Regions from separate parts of the Homo sapiens genome. Here all the other regions are reported to be linked to region 1. Evidence: microRNA targets listed by miRTarBase, many of them from high-throughput screens and not tested one by one. Region 1 holds a microRNA gene; each other region holds the end of a gene's coding sequence.

Region 1 (4,150 bases):
CAAGCCAGTCAGACAGTGGCTGCTGTGAAACCCCCTGCTGCATGGACACCTGGATGAGAGAGGGCAGGCAGCAGATAGGCAGGGGGCAGGGCCTCAAACACTCGCAGCCTGTCCACTCTCAAACTGGAAACTGTATCTCAAGTTCAGCAGTTGGCTTTCTGAGTCTCCGGAGTTATCTACCAAAATATTTGAGCTGGCTTTTATCCTATATGAGCTGAAGCTGGCAGGAGGCTACTTGTAAAACTCCTTCCTTAGGAAAGAAATGATACACGCTACGCGAGGAAAAAAGAAAACAGCTGTGAATGAATTCTTCCCTCACTTTCGAAGATGTGGGTATGTGGCTAGAAAGATGGGGCAGGTTAAGTGTTTATAATAATCAACCTCTGACCAAGCCGGGTTATAGTTTAGAAAGCTGGGGGGCTGCCAGCTGAGCAGGGTCTTTTGAGAGGCAGTCTGGTCCACTGGGCAGAGACCTGGACTGGAAATCAGAACATCTGGGCTCTGGGCCTTAAGCTCTGCATTCACCAGAGTGGCCTGGGGCAAGTTTCTTAGCACTGTGAGCCTTTGTTTCTTCCTTCTTAAAATGGAGAAAGTAATTCCTGCTATCTCCCTGCAATCTCAGGGAGCCAAGATCCAGGCACAAGAGCATCCAGGAAGGGGTTTGTTCCTTTCTGTAAGGAGTATACGGCTTAGCTCTGGGTGGTGGCACACCAGAATGAAATGACTCTGGCTACGACTGAGGGGTGAGATCCCAGTATCTAGGGATTGGGCACTCCAGGAACAACTTGCATTCACTGTGCCATATGCTTACAAATCACAGTCCCATCTATTTTATCATTTGAGCCTCATGACAACTCTGTGAGGTGGTTGTCACACCCATTTTAAAGACAAGGAAACTGGCCGGGCACGGTGGCTCACACCTGTAATCCCAGCACTTTGGGAGGCCGAGGTGGGTGGATCACCAGAGGTCAGGAGTTCAAGACCAGCCTGGCCAACATGGTGAAACCCTGTCTCTACTAAAAATACAAAAATTAGCCGGGCGTGGTGGCGCATGCCTGTAGTCCCAGCTACTTGGGAGGCTGAGGCAGGAGAATCGCTTGAACCTGGGAGGCAGAGGTTGCAGTGAGCTGAGTTTGCACCACTGCACTCCGGCCTGGGCAACAAGAGCTAGACTCTATCACAAAAAAAAAAAAAAAAAAAAAAAAATGAGGACACTAAGGCTTAGAATGGTGAAATGGCTTGCTCAAGGTTTCACAGCTGCTCCATGTGACAGGGTGGAGCGGGTGCCTGGAGCTAGGGCATGGTACCCTGTCACCTGCCCCCACAATCTGTGCCACTTCTGTCAACCACTGTGCTGACCATGGCAGGCACACCTCAGCTGGCTGCTTCCTGAGCCCTACCAGGAGGCGTCAGGAAGGTGCTGGTGAGGCAAGGCTGGGGAATGAACCACCACCTATCTCAAACCCTGACTGGGCACATGGCGCCTGGGCTGTATCTACAGAAGACTAAAACTCCAAAGGAATCTCGCCATTAGCGTTAGGGAGATAATCCTGGGACTGGTGGAAGGAGGAGACCTCTCTTCTCTAGGATGTAAACTGCAATAAGCCAGCAGCTCTTTTGAGGAGGACAATGGCAGCAGCAGGATGCAGGTGGGATGCTCTGAAATTAGGGGCACCCGTGAGGCATGCACAGTACTACCAATGTGCCGAGGGAGACCCCCAGGGTCAGACAGAGCCTCTTCTCAGATCTTGATTTGAACTTCCAAACCACCAAGATCTGCTGGTGCCGCCGTCCTCCTCCTCATCAGATCCCCCCATTCACCCCCAGCCCTGCAGGGCCCAGGTTCAAGCCCCGCTTCCCTCAGAAAGTGTTCTCTGACCATCAGGATCCAAGAAGCCTGGCTTCCCTCTGTGTCCCAACGTGATGGCTGCTGGCACCACACAGGAGTTGATATTGTTAGTTACCTTTTTTTTTTTTTCCTGAGACAGCGTCTTGCTCTGTTGCCCAGGCTGAAGTGCAGTGGTGTAACCATGGCTCACTGCAGCCTCAGACTCCAGGGCTCAAGCAATTCTGCTACCCCAGCCTCCTGAGTAGCTGGGACCACAGGCACACGCCATCACACTTAGCTAATTTTTAATGCTTTTGTAGAGACAAGGGTCTTGCTATGTTGACCAGGCAGGTCTCGAACTCTCACACTGAAGTGATCCCCTGACCTCCTAAAGTGCTGGGATTACAGGCATGAGCCACTGTGCACGGCTGATATTGTTAGTTACCTTTGCAAATAATTTTTTTAAAAAGAGTAACTTCAAACTGTTATAGTAATTTAGAGGTGACAAAGAATGTTTACAAACATCATCTCATGGTACCCTCACAACAACCCTGTGAGGTGAGTCTGATTCAGCCATTTCACAGATGGCGAAACTGAGTCTTAGGTCAGTGACATGCCCAAGGGCACACTCCTGGCACAGCTGGTACTGGAACCAGATCCGAGTTCACGTCCGAAGTTCCTTCCACAGTATGCACACCTCGGGGCCACAGCAGCTGAAGGCCCTTCCATAGGCTGTGGCTGGAGAAGGCGTGTTCCTCTGTTTGGGGTGGTGATAAGTAGGCCAAGGTGACGGGTGCGATTTCTGTGTGAGACAATTCCATTAACCATGTCCCTCAATCACAGATAGCACCCCTCACCTTGAGCCCAGTTTCACAGGTTGGCCAGCAAGCGGTCTTGGTTCAGGAACTCCATCTTAGTCTGCAGAGAAGGATGCAATGGCAGGAAGTGCCAGGCTATGAGAGGCACACAATATGACATGGGCGCAAGCTGGGAGCTTGTTCAGTCACCAGACACCTCTGATGTGTCAGTCTCTCTTCAGGGCTCCCGAGACACAGAAACAGACACCTGCCCTCGAGGAGCTCACAGTCTAGACAAACAAACCCAGGGTCCAAACAAATGGGACACCAACAGTGTGCGAGGACTGGGAAGGGGTGCCTGAGGTCTTCTGGGGCACTGGGAAGGCTTCACAACAGCAGGGCAAAGGATGAGCAGAAGGTGACCAGGAGTATGGAGAGAACATGCATGAGGGCAGGGGCGGGGCCCCTTTAGACGCAGCCCAGGGAGGACAGACTGAAGAAGGACAAGAGAAGGTGGATGGGTTACAACCCCATTACAACACTTCAGGGGAGAGAGTGTCAGGGGAGAGACGGTGAGAATATGCAGTGCAGGTGGTGAAAATGGGAGCCAGTGAGTCAGAGGGACCAGGGGCTCAGGCCAATGCACAGCCTTCACTGCTGGACATGGTCCCACAGGACCTCGATGCTGAGCTGGGGCCTGGGCTGAGTCAGGAGACAGGGCTCCAGGCACGGCAGCCTCTGGGTCCTGGTGTGTTCCTGCAGCCAGGGATGGATATACTGAGAGCTTATAAGGCAGACGATGTGTGGGTTTTTGGGGTCCAGAGACAAAGAGGCCACTTTCTGAATTTCCAACCTGACTAGATTCATGCAGTGGGAATAGCAGGACAGGCCAAGTGGCAGCTGACTGTTAGGACAGAGGCAAAAATAAAGCCCCGTGGGAGTGCAGGAGGGAGTGCAAAGTCACAGGGAGCGGGGCGGCTGGGAAAGGCTCCATCTGTGGAGCCACATTCTGACAGGACGAGTGAGATTTTAGAAGTGTGGGGAAAAGTGAGAGGGGAAGAAGGGCCAGGGGCACAGGAGAGCCTGAGTAAGAGTGTGACTGACGGTGCGACTTGGGTAGCTGTTGGCATGGAGGCGTACAAAGGCCCTGCCTGATACAACATCTGGAGCCCTGGGGTGAGAACAGGGGTGGGTCAGCAAAGAGACATATCCGGCTTTCAGAAAGTGGCCGCCAGAGGGCAGCTGGGAGCAGGCAGGAGGCCAGGGGCTTGCCGTCCTGTTCCCCTCAGGCAGGGCCATGCTGGGCCTGCTTTCTCTCAGGTGGCACAAGGTGTCAAATGGCCTCGGCAGCCAGGGAGATGAAGACAGTCCAGTACTTCCTTCTCTTTAGGGGAGAAAGAGGTAATTTCCAATGGAAAGAGGTTTACAAGAAGCAAAATTCAGCCCCACCTCCAAGAGCTATGAGGTTTAACAACCTTCCACTCCCCTCCAAAGAGCACATGGAGCTGGGCCTGACTCTTCCCGG
Region 2 (4,000 bases), not on the chromosome of region 1:
GTCTCGAACTCCTGTGCTCAAGTGATCCTCCTGTCTCAGCTTCCCAAAGTGCTAGGATTATAGACGTGAGCCACCATGTCTGGCCTGTCCACTGACTTTTAAAATGTTCTACATAGATTTTGCCAAGAACTCCAATATTCAGTGACAATCATTTGAGTCTTCGTGGAGCTTTCAAAATACAGGTCTTTCTGCTGCCTTGCTGGGCCGTAGCTCAGATGTGGGAAGTAAACAGAATGGTCAAGATTTGGTCGGAATGGTCGGTAAGAGAATGGTCGAGGAAAAAATTCCTGCAAAATATGTTGCAAAAGGCTGGGCATGGTGGCTCACACCTGTGATCCCAGCACTTTGGGAGGCCAAGGCAGGCGGATCGTTTGAGCTCAGTTCGAGACCAACATGGCAAAACCCTGTCTCTACTAAAAATACAAAAATCAGTCAGGCTTGGTGGCATGCGCCTGTAATCCCAGCTACTCGGGAGGCTGAGGCGGGAGAATCACTGGAACCTGGGAGACAGAGGTTGCAGTGAGCTGAGATCGCACCACTGCACTCCAGCCTGGCTGATAGAGAGACTCCGCCTCAAAAAAAAAAAAAAAAAAAAAGTTGCAAAACCAGGTCCTCTTACTTTCCCTGCCTTCCTCTGCAACATTCCTTTTGAGATCAGTTTTTTTTTTAAATTATACTTTAAGTTTTAGGGTACATGTGCACAACGTGCAGGTTTGTTACATATGTATACATGTGCCATGTTGGTGTGCTGCACCCATGGTTCTGAAACTTTTTTGGCCATAGCCCCATAGGGTCCTTATTTAAGATATTCCCAAAGTCCCACACCCCAGAAATTCTGATTCTGTGAATCTGGAAAATCAGGGGCAGGAATGTTGCCTTCTAACACCCCGGGTGATTCTAACACAGGTGAATCTGGGCCACTATACAATACTGGTTTTTGTTTGCTTGTTGAGACTTGAGTCTGTTTCTTGAGACTGAGTCTCTGTCGCCCAAGCTGGAGTGCAGTGGTGTGATGGCAGGTTGCTCACTGCAACTTCTATCTCCCGGCTTCAAGCGATTCTTGTGCCTCAGCCTACCCAGTAGCTGGGAATACAGGTGTGCGCCACCAAACCCAGCTAATTTTTGTATTTTTAGTAAAGACAGGATTTCACCATGTTGGCAAGTCTGGTCTTGAACTCTGGACCTCTGGTCATCTGCCCACCTCGGCCTCCCACAGTGCTGATATTACAGGTGTGAGCCACCATGCCCAGCCAACACTGCTTTAAATACAAATTCTTCCTCTTGGGATCATAAGACTTACACGGACCTCTAAGTACCCAACATTTTCTCTTTATAAATATCAATCTTCACAAATATTATTTCCTTAAGTACATACTCCACTTAGCTCCCTCCTCTCAATAGGCCTGCCACTGAGGAAAACACCAGCTCTCACGGCACAGGCTACACTGAAGTTCAGTCATCGTTATTTAAAAAAAAAAAAAAAAAAAAGCTCAACAGTAGGTTTATCTCACTAGAGGTTTCCAACACACTTTATTTTGCAGACCACTGGTTTGTAGCTTTTGAGGACCAACATCTCTATCAATTCCTATAAAATGTCCAATCACTTTCAGTTCCGTAGCAGGCTCTTCCATACTGCACACCATGCTTATGGCTGGAGGTCCAGTTACACATGCATGAAGGCTGCCCTGCCCACTGGTTCCTGGAGGAGGGCGCGTCCGAGTTAAAGCCTCTTCCAGGAGCTTGAACTTCCCAGGGGTCATTTCCTTTGGCAAGAAGTCAGTTTACATGTGCAGCTTTGGTGCCTGTGAGCAGAAAGCACCAGAAATGGGCAGGATGTGCTGCTTTTTCTCTCACGAAGATGGGCACTTGAGGATCCAGCGCCCTTGTGCTTAATGACAGGAATCCCTCCTCATTGCTTAGTAGGTTAAAATATAAGGAAGCCTCCACTTTACATAACACAGAGAACACCTTTTTAGATTGCCTATTTATTCTAGAACTACAAAATTTAATTCAAGAAAATATAGGTCCCATGAAAGACTTAAAAGTTTTATAAAACTAAAATCTAGTTTTTCCCGATAAATTGTACTTTAGGCAAAACCCTCCCAACGCTTCTAAAATAATACTAAAAGGGGCATCTGATTATACAAGAGCAATTTAAAAAATTAAATATTTATTTGAATAACAAGTTTAAGTTCGAGCTGCAATGTTGGCAATGCAGGTTTTTAACACAGATCACAAAAAGCGTGCACAAAAAAGTACTGGCGCAAAGGACAAAATAATGCTAAGAATTAGGCCAAACAGCTGCTGATTTTAAGAAAACAAAAGGCCTGAAATCACTGTACAAAATAGAAAATGTATTAAACACTACCATCCACAGAACAGTCTTTACTATTGATTATATTTAAAAATTATTTGTGTAATTATATATTGAATTGTAAATGAGTATTATACATGAACCTCCATTCGGAAGGCAATTCCTTGTAGCACTATAGAACATCTAATAACATTGCAAAAAGTATCCTTTTTTGCTATCGATAAAACAGTTAATGGTATTACTGTAAATATCAGGAAGGCTACAAAAAAAGAAATAAGATTTCTTTTTTGTCTTCAAAGTGTTTTCCATGCAATGAAGCACTTGCTGTGTTGAACTGAATGCACTACTGGAGAATGTTCTGGGTCCGAGATGCTCTTGAGAGACAAGACTAGGCTTTTCAAATCAAACACTCAAAGGAATCATGCAACCCTCTTATGACTGGGATACCGTCATGTGCCACTTACCAATGCTGTCTCTCCAGAAAACCATTCAAGACGCTTAAAAAAAAAAATCAGACTTATATGATAAATATACATAAAATGAAGACACCAACTGCTATTTGACACGACTACGGGTAATGCCTGTGCTATGTGAAAGCACCTTTAAAAAGCCTATGCGGCAAGAGATAAGTGTCTAAAGATTCAAAATGAATCAACAGTATTGGATAACAATATAATTCTCAACTCAGAAGCTGCCTCAAGATTAGGTGCATCTTCAGTTAATGTAACAGGAAAAAAAGGCAATGGATTTTATTTTATTAATTGTATCCACTTACAAACCGACCTAAGGTCACCCCGATGTGTAGACACAATGAGATTTTTGTTGTTTATAGTCTTTAATTGAAGTGATAAGGGAAATAGATCTATTTAAAAACAAAACCAAACAGCTATTTCTGTCTAGATTAAGAGGTGGCCCCGGGTGTGGGATTCACATTTTGAGTGGCCACTTGTGGTGCGACCTCGATGATCCGGGGTTTGTCTATGATTCTGGCTGTGCGGTTGCCCTTCTCTACAATCCCAATAATCCATGCTTGGTGGCCTTCACCATATTTGGGGGACTTTATCTCTGCACAGAACCGAGCTGCTTGCTCACGTGGTAAACAGATCAGAAGGCCGCCTGGCAAAAGAAAACAAGAATGACTGTTAGTGTTGACATGACAGCAGCTTCTCTGCCTCTGCTGCTTCTGCAGAGATCCAACTTCCATCAACAACTTGCTGCCACCTATATGCAAGTAGCTCTTCCCATTCAACTAAGCAGCTTTTTTTTGAGACAGGGTCTCACTCTGTGGCCCAAGCTGGAGTGCAGTGGTACAATCACAGCTCACTGCAGCCTCAATGTCCTGGCTCAGGTGACCCTCCCACTTCAGCTTTCCCAGTAGCTGTGATTACAAGTGTGCACCACCACACCTGGCTAATTTTCTGTAGAGACAAGGTTTCACTGTGTTGTCCAGGCTGGTCTAAAACTCCTGGACTCAAGCAATCCACCTGCCTTGGCCTCCCAAAGTGCTGAGATTACAGGAATGAACCACCACTCCCAGCCTAAGAGGCCTGTTCTATGCTGTAATTAAGCAATTGCTAGTAAACTCCTAACACACACACATATACACTCCAACTTTCAACTGTGAAAATGACCTATTCGTGAACCACATAACACTGTGTAGGGGTAAGGTGTTTGGGGCTTCAATAA
Region 3 (4,000 bases), not on the chromosome of region 1:
TGCACCTCATTTTTTCCTGAGCTCCAAGGTTACACAAGTGGCAGGCTGCCCAGGCCAAATTCCACGTCTGTCCCAATCCTCGATCCACTAACACACAAAACCAGGTCAGAAGCGGTTATGCAGCCCTTGGGTACAAACAGCCAGCTTCCTGCACTCACTCACTGGGCTGGCTGTGTTTGCCATACAAACAGGACAAAGTCCAGGCCTCCTGACCCCAGGGAATAAAGCCTGCAGCTTTGCTTTGCTACACTTTAAAGTACAGGCTGCTTTCAAGTTAACCAGGCAGTCCTTCGTCTTCTCCAGCAAGGCTGAATCCACAGTTCTCTGCTAGGGTAAGGGGGGCTCGTTCAGTTCAAAGGTTTGGGGACTCAGCTCCTGGCCCCTTTGCAGGGTTGCCTTAAGTTTTGGGTTTGACAACCCAGGGACTCTTGTGCACTAAGGTTTGGAGACAAACACTAGGAGAGGAGAAAAAGTGTGACCCAAATAGTAGAAAGAATTCTCTGAGACTCAGTTAAGGTTATTTTAGCTCTGGTTAAACATGCATGTGCGTGCTCACACGCTCACACACACACCATTGTATCCTAAGCTGAATGCTGTCTTTTCAAAAATCTGGCCATTGGCTCATGCCTGTCACCTCAACACTTTGGGAGGCCGAGGTGGGAGGATCACTTGAGCCCAGGAGTTTGAAACCAGCCCGAGCAACATAGTGAGACCCTGTCTCTACAAAAATTTAAAAATCATTTTTTAAATATATACTTATGCTTTCTCGCTACAGGTTTTTTAATCCCAGCTGGTACGGCAGGGGAGATGTCACCCAGGGCAGAGGCTGGGAGGCTTTCAGGCCACAGATTTCCACCATTTGCCAAGCTTCCCTGCTCTCCAGGGTCTCTCTGCAAGGAGCCCCTTAGGAGAATGAAGAAGATCCATTTTGTTTTCTATAAGATATCAACGAGGTACTTCTTGGTTTTATTAGATATGAGAATTATCAATTCAAGTCAGAAGTGCCACAACCACTGCCATATTAGAAAGATTAGTACCCGAGAGCCCAGACTGTCACCCGGCTGGAGGCCTCTCGCCGATGGCTCCCAGGGACCACTGACCTAATCAAGGGCCTCCTCCTTCACACGCCACCCTCCACCCCAACCCCTTTATGCCTTCTTAAAGTCCTTCAGGGAGGGGACCCACCATCAAGATTGTCCTTTCTGGCACCTAACTCTTCTGTCTGCTAGAAGACAGCAATGAGACTGTCCCTACAACGATGATGCTTATGGTGGCCACATCTCAAAGAAGCTGAGAGGGATCTCAGCCCCGTATTGTCACTTGGGAGGCAGAACCCAAATCTTAGTAAATGAAGACTTTCTCTCTTGAACCATTCACAGGAATACTGAAGGTAATGAAAAAATAATGTGTAAACCATCCTTTGGAGCAGAGGCTACAAACTCACATGCCCGCCTGGACCAGCACCGGGCAGACGTCTTACATGAGTGAAGTGCAGTGGGGGATGGGAAGGGCGGGGGAGGGGGTAAAGGTGGTGGGGGTGAGCCGCAGCAGACTTGAGATGACAGCATGCCCCATCCTCCACCCAGAAAACTAGGTATTTTTTATACGTAATCTCCCAAGTTTCAAATATTGGCAATACATACAAAAGGTTATGAAGCCTTATAACTTCTGCCTTAGGCAAATTCCAAACTTAAACAAAGCTCCCTCTCCCACTAAATAAGAAAACTTTAATAAGATGATTACAAAGAAATTAATAAAGAAATAGAAAATGATAGCAGCTTCAAAAATACCAGTCTCCCTGTTTTAAAACAAAATCAATAAAATCAGTGAATCACAATTCATTGAACTCATTCTTGGCTACAAGGAAGCAGCTGGATAGATCCACTGGCAGGCAGCCCTGCAGGATTAAAATGAGGCCCACTGCCAAAAAGCCCCAAATGAGATGCCGTCCTCCTCATCCTCACACCATCCTCATCAGGCAGGGAAGGAATAGGATTAGACTCCCTATTATGGAGAATAGGTTGAGGCACAGAGCAGGAAGGGCCCCTTCTTAATATCATAGAGCCCCTCTGTTGGGTCAGACCAGAACTGGGGGCAGAGGCTAAAGGTGAGACCCACTGCTGTCCAGGAGCAAGGGGCTGGGGGTAGGGGCTACCCTGGCAGCCGGGAGTTCTGGAGCCAGTGATCTAGAGCCCCCCAGCAAAACAGGTTTCCCATTGCACCATTTGGCACTATCCTGGAGAGAGCTGAAATAACAAATCAAAGTTAGGCAGCACCTTGCAGGGCACCGAGCAAATAGTAGGCGCAGTTGTGTGTCTGCTGCGTAAACTGTGCATCATGAATGAAGGGAGCTACTTCCCTCAGCTAGTGCCTCCCCTCCAGGGAAATCCAGGAGCTGCCTTTGCCATTCCGAAGACTCTGGATTTCTCCAAGGCAGGCAAAGAAGACAAGGGAGGTAATGGTGAGTTCCCTCCGTGAATAAACACATGGATTTCCCAGCTCTAAGGGAACATCATCGATTCTGTCAGACTCACGGACACAGAGGAAGGGATTCCAGAACCTCACAGAAACAGAGAGCCCGGAGGGGCTGTGTTTGCATTGAGCTTGGGCTAGGACCTGAGAGCTAGAGCAAGTCCTATACCCAGTAGTCCAAGCCCCTAGCTTTCCTTCTGTTTGGTGCCTATAGGAATTCCCTAGCATCCTTATACCCAAAGGACTTGGCACAGAAAGTCGATGTCAACATGAGAAAGAAAGAGGCTCTTTGTTCTCACCGGCATGTGTGGCTATTTCTGTCCTGGCCCTGCAGCACGCAGACCGTCTTGGCCCTGGCCCGACAAGCCCCCAAGGCAACAGTGTAGTCTTTATTTTGGCTTGCTCTGGGAGCCAAGGTCCAGGGAAGCCTGACCCTCTCTGCTCTGGGGGACTCTGACAGGGAGAAGGCATTGGCTCAGCCAGAATGTCTCAAAGGTACTACAATTGGCATTGAATGGACCAATTCTTTGCTGTCAGAGACTGTTCTGCACATTGTGGGATGCCCACTAGATGCCAGGGGTGCCCCCACAGTCACTGTGACCCCCTCAACACACACACATTTCCAATGCTGCCTGGAGGGACAACCTGCCCCTGGTTTAAAGCCACTGGGCTGGTGGCCCCCTCATGCATTTGTGAAACAGAAGCCCCAGAGACTGAGTGACATGTTCAAGGCCATGCCTCAGCTCTGATGACTTCTGGTTCAGAGTTCTTCCCAGCTGCACTCTCAACGATGGGTGCCCATGCATGTGCCCAGAACACTGCAGACACACCATGGGGTGCCACAGCTCTGCAGAGCCTCAAAGCGGACAGCCATCTGTCTCAGTGGCTCAGAGAAACCGAGACAGAGAGACAAAATAACCTCCCTGTGATCAGACTTAGCAAATGCTGGGTGGGGAGTAGGTTCCCAGGGGAGACACTGTTTTAGGTCCTGCTTGTCTTAGTAAGCCCCACTGTCTAGCTGGTAACTGTGAGTGTGGCAGGCCTCCAGCAGGCGGGGGTTTCTGCAGTCTCCATGGAGACCTGGGGGCCAGTAAGACGGAGCCAGGCCCCAGTCTGTAGGTTAGAGCCAGGGACAGCGCAAGGGTCCAGCCTTCATCTTGAGTCTCCGGTGGGCTCAGCAGGAGTGTGTACGACTCCATCACAGGCTTTTGACCCCCTTCCAAGGTCATCACAGTCTCCATTGGGAAATATGGCTGTTAGTGGCAGCTCCTCCTCAGGTTCCTGGAAGTCTTCTGGAACACAGGAGAAGAAATCACTGAATCAGAAGAGAAAGGTTGTGAGTGAGTTATCTAGGAAGGAAAAGGAGAAAGTTGTCCCCAGCAAATACCTACTTAAAAAACAAAACAAAATACATATCAAAAACCTTAACGATGTACACACCCTTTGACCCACAAATTTCACTTCTAGGATTTTATCCTAAGAAAATAATTAGGAATAATTAGTGGAACTGCTGGAGCTATCTTGCTAC
Region 4 (4,000 bases), not on the chromosome of region 1:
CGTCAGTCTCCCGAGTAGCTAGGATTACGGTACCCGCCATATGCCAGGCTAATTTTTGTATTTTTTGTAGAGATGGGGTTTCACCATGTTGGCCCGGCTGGTCTCGAATCTCTAACCTCAAATGATCCGCCTGCCTCGGCCTCCAAAAGTGCTGGGATTACAGGCGTGAGCCATCGCGCCGGGCCCAATTTGTGTACTTCTAGTAACATCCTTTCTCCGCTAGATTGTGACCTCCACAAGAGCAGGAGCCTGTTTTGCCCACCATTGTAGTGCACATCATACACCCTTGATCACTCTGGTCCTCTCCACGTCCACTTCTTGGTGAAAATGCTAGGTCACCAAGCAGGCCTCTCATCCTACATTCCAACAACAAGCCATCTGGTTTGCTGACCCTACCCATGAGGCTGTGTGTGAGCCAGGTGGGCTGGGGAACAGAGACCATCCCTGGCCCAGTGAACCCGAGATGACCTGCTCCATGGAAGGGATCTGGTGCCCTGGTAGAAAGACACTTTGAGTACCCAAGACTTCAATCCCTGGGGCTAGTGAATGGGTCATAAATGAGCCACTTCTGCCCCTGTTCTTTTAATAATGTCCATTCCCCTCACATAGGAGCTTGGATGAAGGGCACCTGGATGTCCATCCCAGGTATACTGGGGCCACTAGTAACACAGACAAAGGCAGTGAAGTAGGACAAGGTCAGGGTAGGGGTGAGAGGGCAGGGGCAGGCACAGCCAAGGCTGTGGGGCTTCCCCAGAGGCCCAGATAGGCTTGAGCCTGCAGAGGACCGGCTTCTCTTCTTGGCAGCACTGGGCACATTCATAAATGTTGTCTATGATCTTTCTGCTCTGCAGAGGCAGGGTGCCTTCATGCACTTCTGAATCCTTACTGTCCATGCCATAGTTTCCAGAAGATAGACATGTCCAACGGTATATGTCCAAGAAATGTGAGGTGCAGCTAGCCCCCATGAGTCCTTTGGGTCTGATGGAGGCACCTCCTTGAGAAGTCTTTCTTCCCTGACACATCCTTTAGTTAACTCCATGCTCCTCACCATGGGTCTCCACAGCCTTGTTGCGCTCAGTATTGTAGGCTCAAAAAACATTTTTCTGAATGAATGTAGAACTTGAAGACTGCCTCTCCTCTGAACAGTTGCCACGTCCAGTGCTCTCAGCCTGGAATCCTCTTCCTTCTTCATTCACCTGTTCAGTTTATTTCAAAATTTGAGGGATTACTAGGTGTTACACTCTTACTGGGCCCAGGGATTACCTCCTCCAGAGAGCCTTTCTGACCCTTCCATTAGGGGCTCCTCTTCCCCATGGCTACTGTACCGAGGTGGACCTCTGAGCCCCCAGATCAAGACGGTCCCTTGAGCACAGAAACCAGCTCTGATTCATCTCTCTGTGCTTGGCACCAGCCTCGTTCAGGAAACACCCATAGAAGGCACCATCTTCTTACGGAAGAGACCACCTCTGGGGCAGACAGATCCTGGTTGGGATTCTAGATCTGCACTTGATAGCTTGGCCAAGTTCCTTTCTCTCTATCAATTTCCTGGAGTAAAACAGCCTGCCGAGTCTAAATATGAGGTTCTAAACTACCTGGCTGGTTTGCCAAGATAGTCATTATCCCCTTAACCCCAAGGGAGAGCAAGGAAAGATAGGCCACTTAATATCTGGTGCTTTGTAGTCCAGGGACCTAAGGAAGGTGGGAGGAGAAGAAGTTACAGTGAGATTCATCTTTATCTGCCCCAGGCTTAGGTCCTCCTCTCCCTCCTAGTCCTCAGTCACCTAGAATACAGAGCCTGAAAACAAGAACTAAGTACTGGTGTTTTATTTGGAGAGGTGCAAACCCAAGGCATTGGAAGTGAGAAAATGGAAGAAAGGCGGGAAAGAATGGGAAGTAACGTAAGGTGATGTATTTAATAGGCTGGGGTGGGCACTGCTTCATGACAAGCCTTGCAGAGGTCACAGTAGTTCTGTCCACCGGCTACTTGGGAGGCCTCCCCATTGATGGTACTGTTTTGGAGAGTTGGTGCCATGCAGCAATTTATGAAAGGCAGGGGAAAAGGGGGAATTGATTTGCCTGAGTCTCACCTATCTCCCATTTTCCACTAGTCAAAAAAAAAATTTTTTTTTTGAGATGGAGTCTTGCTGTCACCCAGGCTGGAGTGCAATGGCACAATCTTGGCTCACCGCAACCTCCACCTCCCGGGTTCAAGCCATTCTCCTGCCTCAGCCTCTCGAATAACTGGGACTACAGGCGCACGCCACCATGCCTAGCTAATTTTTGTATTTTTTGTAGAGACAGGGTTTCACCATATTAGCCAGGCTAGTCTCAAGACTCCTGACCTTGTGATCCACCCGCCTCAGCCTCCCAAAGTATTGGGATTACAGGCGTGAGCCACTGCGCCCGGCCTCAAATTTTATCCCATAAATATTAACTCCCAGCCAGACACCATGGCTTATGCTTGTAATCCCAGCATTTTGGGAAGCTGAGGTGGGCAGACTACTTGAAGCCAGGAGTTTGAGATTAGTCTGGCCAACATGGTGAAACCCCGTCTCTACAAAAAATACAAAAATTAGCTGGGTGTGGTGGTGCTTGCCTGTAATCCCAGCTATTCAGGAGGCTGAAGCAGGAGAATCGTTTGAACCCGGGAGGCAGAGGTTGCAGTGAGCTGAGATCACACCACTGTACTCCAGCCATGGTGGCAGAGCAAGACTCTGTCTCAAATAAATAAATTTCCCCACACTTCTAAGTTTGCTAGCAGCAACTTGGGATGCCAGATCCCATGCCCTATGCCAGGGCATTCCATCCAAGTCTGTAAAGTGGTGGGAAGAAACAGAAACTCTGGGTACATGGCCAGTGAGTGCCAGGGAGAATGATGCAGTATATGTGCCACGTCTAATACAGTACAAAACTAGTTTTTTCATTTTCTGGAAGAAACAAAGCATAGTGATCCAAGAACTTTCTCAAGGTCACATGGATATTAAGTGGCAAATTCAGGATTTGAAAATAGTCTGGCTCTGGAAACTGGATTTTATGTAGCAAGCAAAGGAGTCACTAAAGGGTTTTAAGCTGGGGAGCGACAAGAAATAAAGAGCATTTTAATGAAGCTCCCAGTCTCTACTGTGCTCCACATTCGCATCTGACTAAACTCCAGCAGAAGCAGGTGGCCCCAGAGAGGTTAAGGGCATCCGAGACAGGGTTTGAGGAGTCTCTGGCTCCAGAGCTCCGTGTAGGCTTCAACACTGACCCATAATCTTCCTGTCTTCATCTAATCCTACACCCACCAAAGAGAAGAACTGGTCAGAGGCAGGTAGGATCTGTGTAGAAAAGCCAGAATGAGGCCGGCTGCGGTGGCTCACGCCTGTAATCCCAGCACTTTGGGAGGCCAGCGTGGGCGGATCATGAGGTCAGGAGATCGAGACCATCCTGGCTAACACAGTGAAACCCCGTCTCTACTAAAAATACAAAAAATTACCCGGGCCTGGTGGCACGTGCCTGTAGTCCTAGCTACTCGGGAGGCTGAGGCAGGAAAATCACTTGAACCTGGGAGGTGGAAGGTGCAGTGAACCGAATTGCGCCACTGCACTCCAGCCTGGGAGACAGAGTGAGACTCCGTCTCAAAAAAATAAAAAGGAAAAAAGGAAAAAGAAAACCCAGAATGAGGAGAGGAGACTGACCTAAGGACCAGCAGCAGGAGGACTGTCCTGCTCTCCATTGTTGTTGTTGGCCTGTGGGTCTGAGGGTCCCGGCCGATGAGTCTTCTGGTGTTGCTTGAGATGGTCAGACCTCATGAACTCCCGGCTGCACTGATCACATTTATATGGTCGATATCTGGTGTGTACCCGCATATGTCGTCTAAGCTCATCAGAACGGAAGAAAGACCATGAACAACTTTCCCAGTTGCAAGAATATGGCCTCTCACCTGGGAATGACAAGGGAGAGATGGAATTTAGAATACAGTAGGAAGGAAGGGGTCTAACTCTGTGAGGCAGAGCAGTCC

Evidence for each region. Region 1 holds the annotated microRNA hsa-miR-342-3p (UCUCACACAGAAAUCGCACCCGU, at 2,618-2,640, opposite strand). A microRNA usually pairs through its seed, bases 2 to 8, with sites in the 3' UTR of a target mRNA and lowers its output. Matches are read on the target gene's strand: a 7mer-m8 pairs with bases 2 to 8, a 7mer-A1 pairs with bases 2 to 7 and ends in A, and an 8mer does both.
Region 2: miRTarBase lists SEPHS1 as a target of hsa-miR-342-3p. The part of its 3' UTR that is shown has no 7-base or 8-base seed match.
Region 3: miRTarBase lists C2orf72 as a target of hsa-miR-342-3p. Seed matches in the 3' UTR shown: 7mer-m8 at 1,960-1,966.
Region 4: miRTarBase lists KLF17 as a target of hsa-miR-342-3p. The part of its 3' UTR that is shown has no 7-base or 8-base seed match.

What each region holds. Positions count from the first base shown.
Region 1 is chr14:100,108,205-100,112,354 of GRCh38, reverse strand. It overlaps MIR342 (microRNA 342), which reads right to left and starts at 2,700; the gene lies at 2,602-2,700. The region is part of intron 3 of EVL (Enah/Vasp-like); the gene reads right to left. MIR151B (microRNA 151b) reads left to right here and starts at 2,841; the gene lies at 2,841-2,936.
Region 2 is chr10:13,315,927-13,319,926 of GRCh38, forward strand. SEPHS1 (selenophosphate synthetase 1) reads right to left here. Exons shown (of 9, transcript NM_012247.5): 9 at 1,502-3,430. The coding sequence ends at 3,216. Among named protein-coding and RNA genes, the nearest start is that of PHYH, 18 kb to the left of the region's middle.
Region 3 is chr2:231,046,646-231,050,645 of GRCh38, reverse strand. It overlaps C2orf72 (chromosome 2 open reading frame 72), which reads right to left. Exons shown (of 3, transcript NM_001144994.2): 3 at 927-3,764. The coding sequence ends at 3,625. It overlaps LOC112268432 (a long non-coding RNA gene), which reads left to right. Exons shown (of 2, transcript XR_002959456.2): 2 at 1-1,770. Among named protein-coding and RNA genes, the nearest start is that of PSMD1, 8.2 kb to the left of the region's middle.
Region 4 is chr1:44,130,434-44,134,433 of GRCh38, reverse strand. KLF17 (KLF transcription factor 17) reads right to left here. Exons shown (of 4, transcript NM_173484.4): 3 at 3,678-3,922; 4 at 1-1,196. The coding sequence ends at 3,678. Among named protein-coding and RNA genes, the nearest start is that of KLF18, 9.2 kb to the left of the region's middle.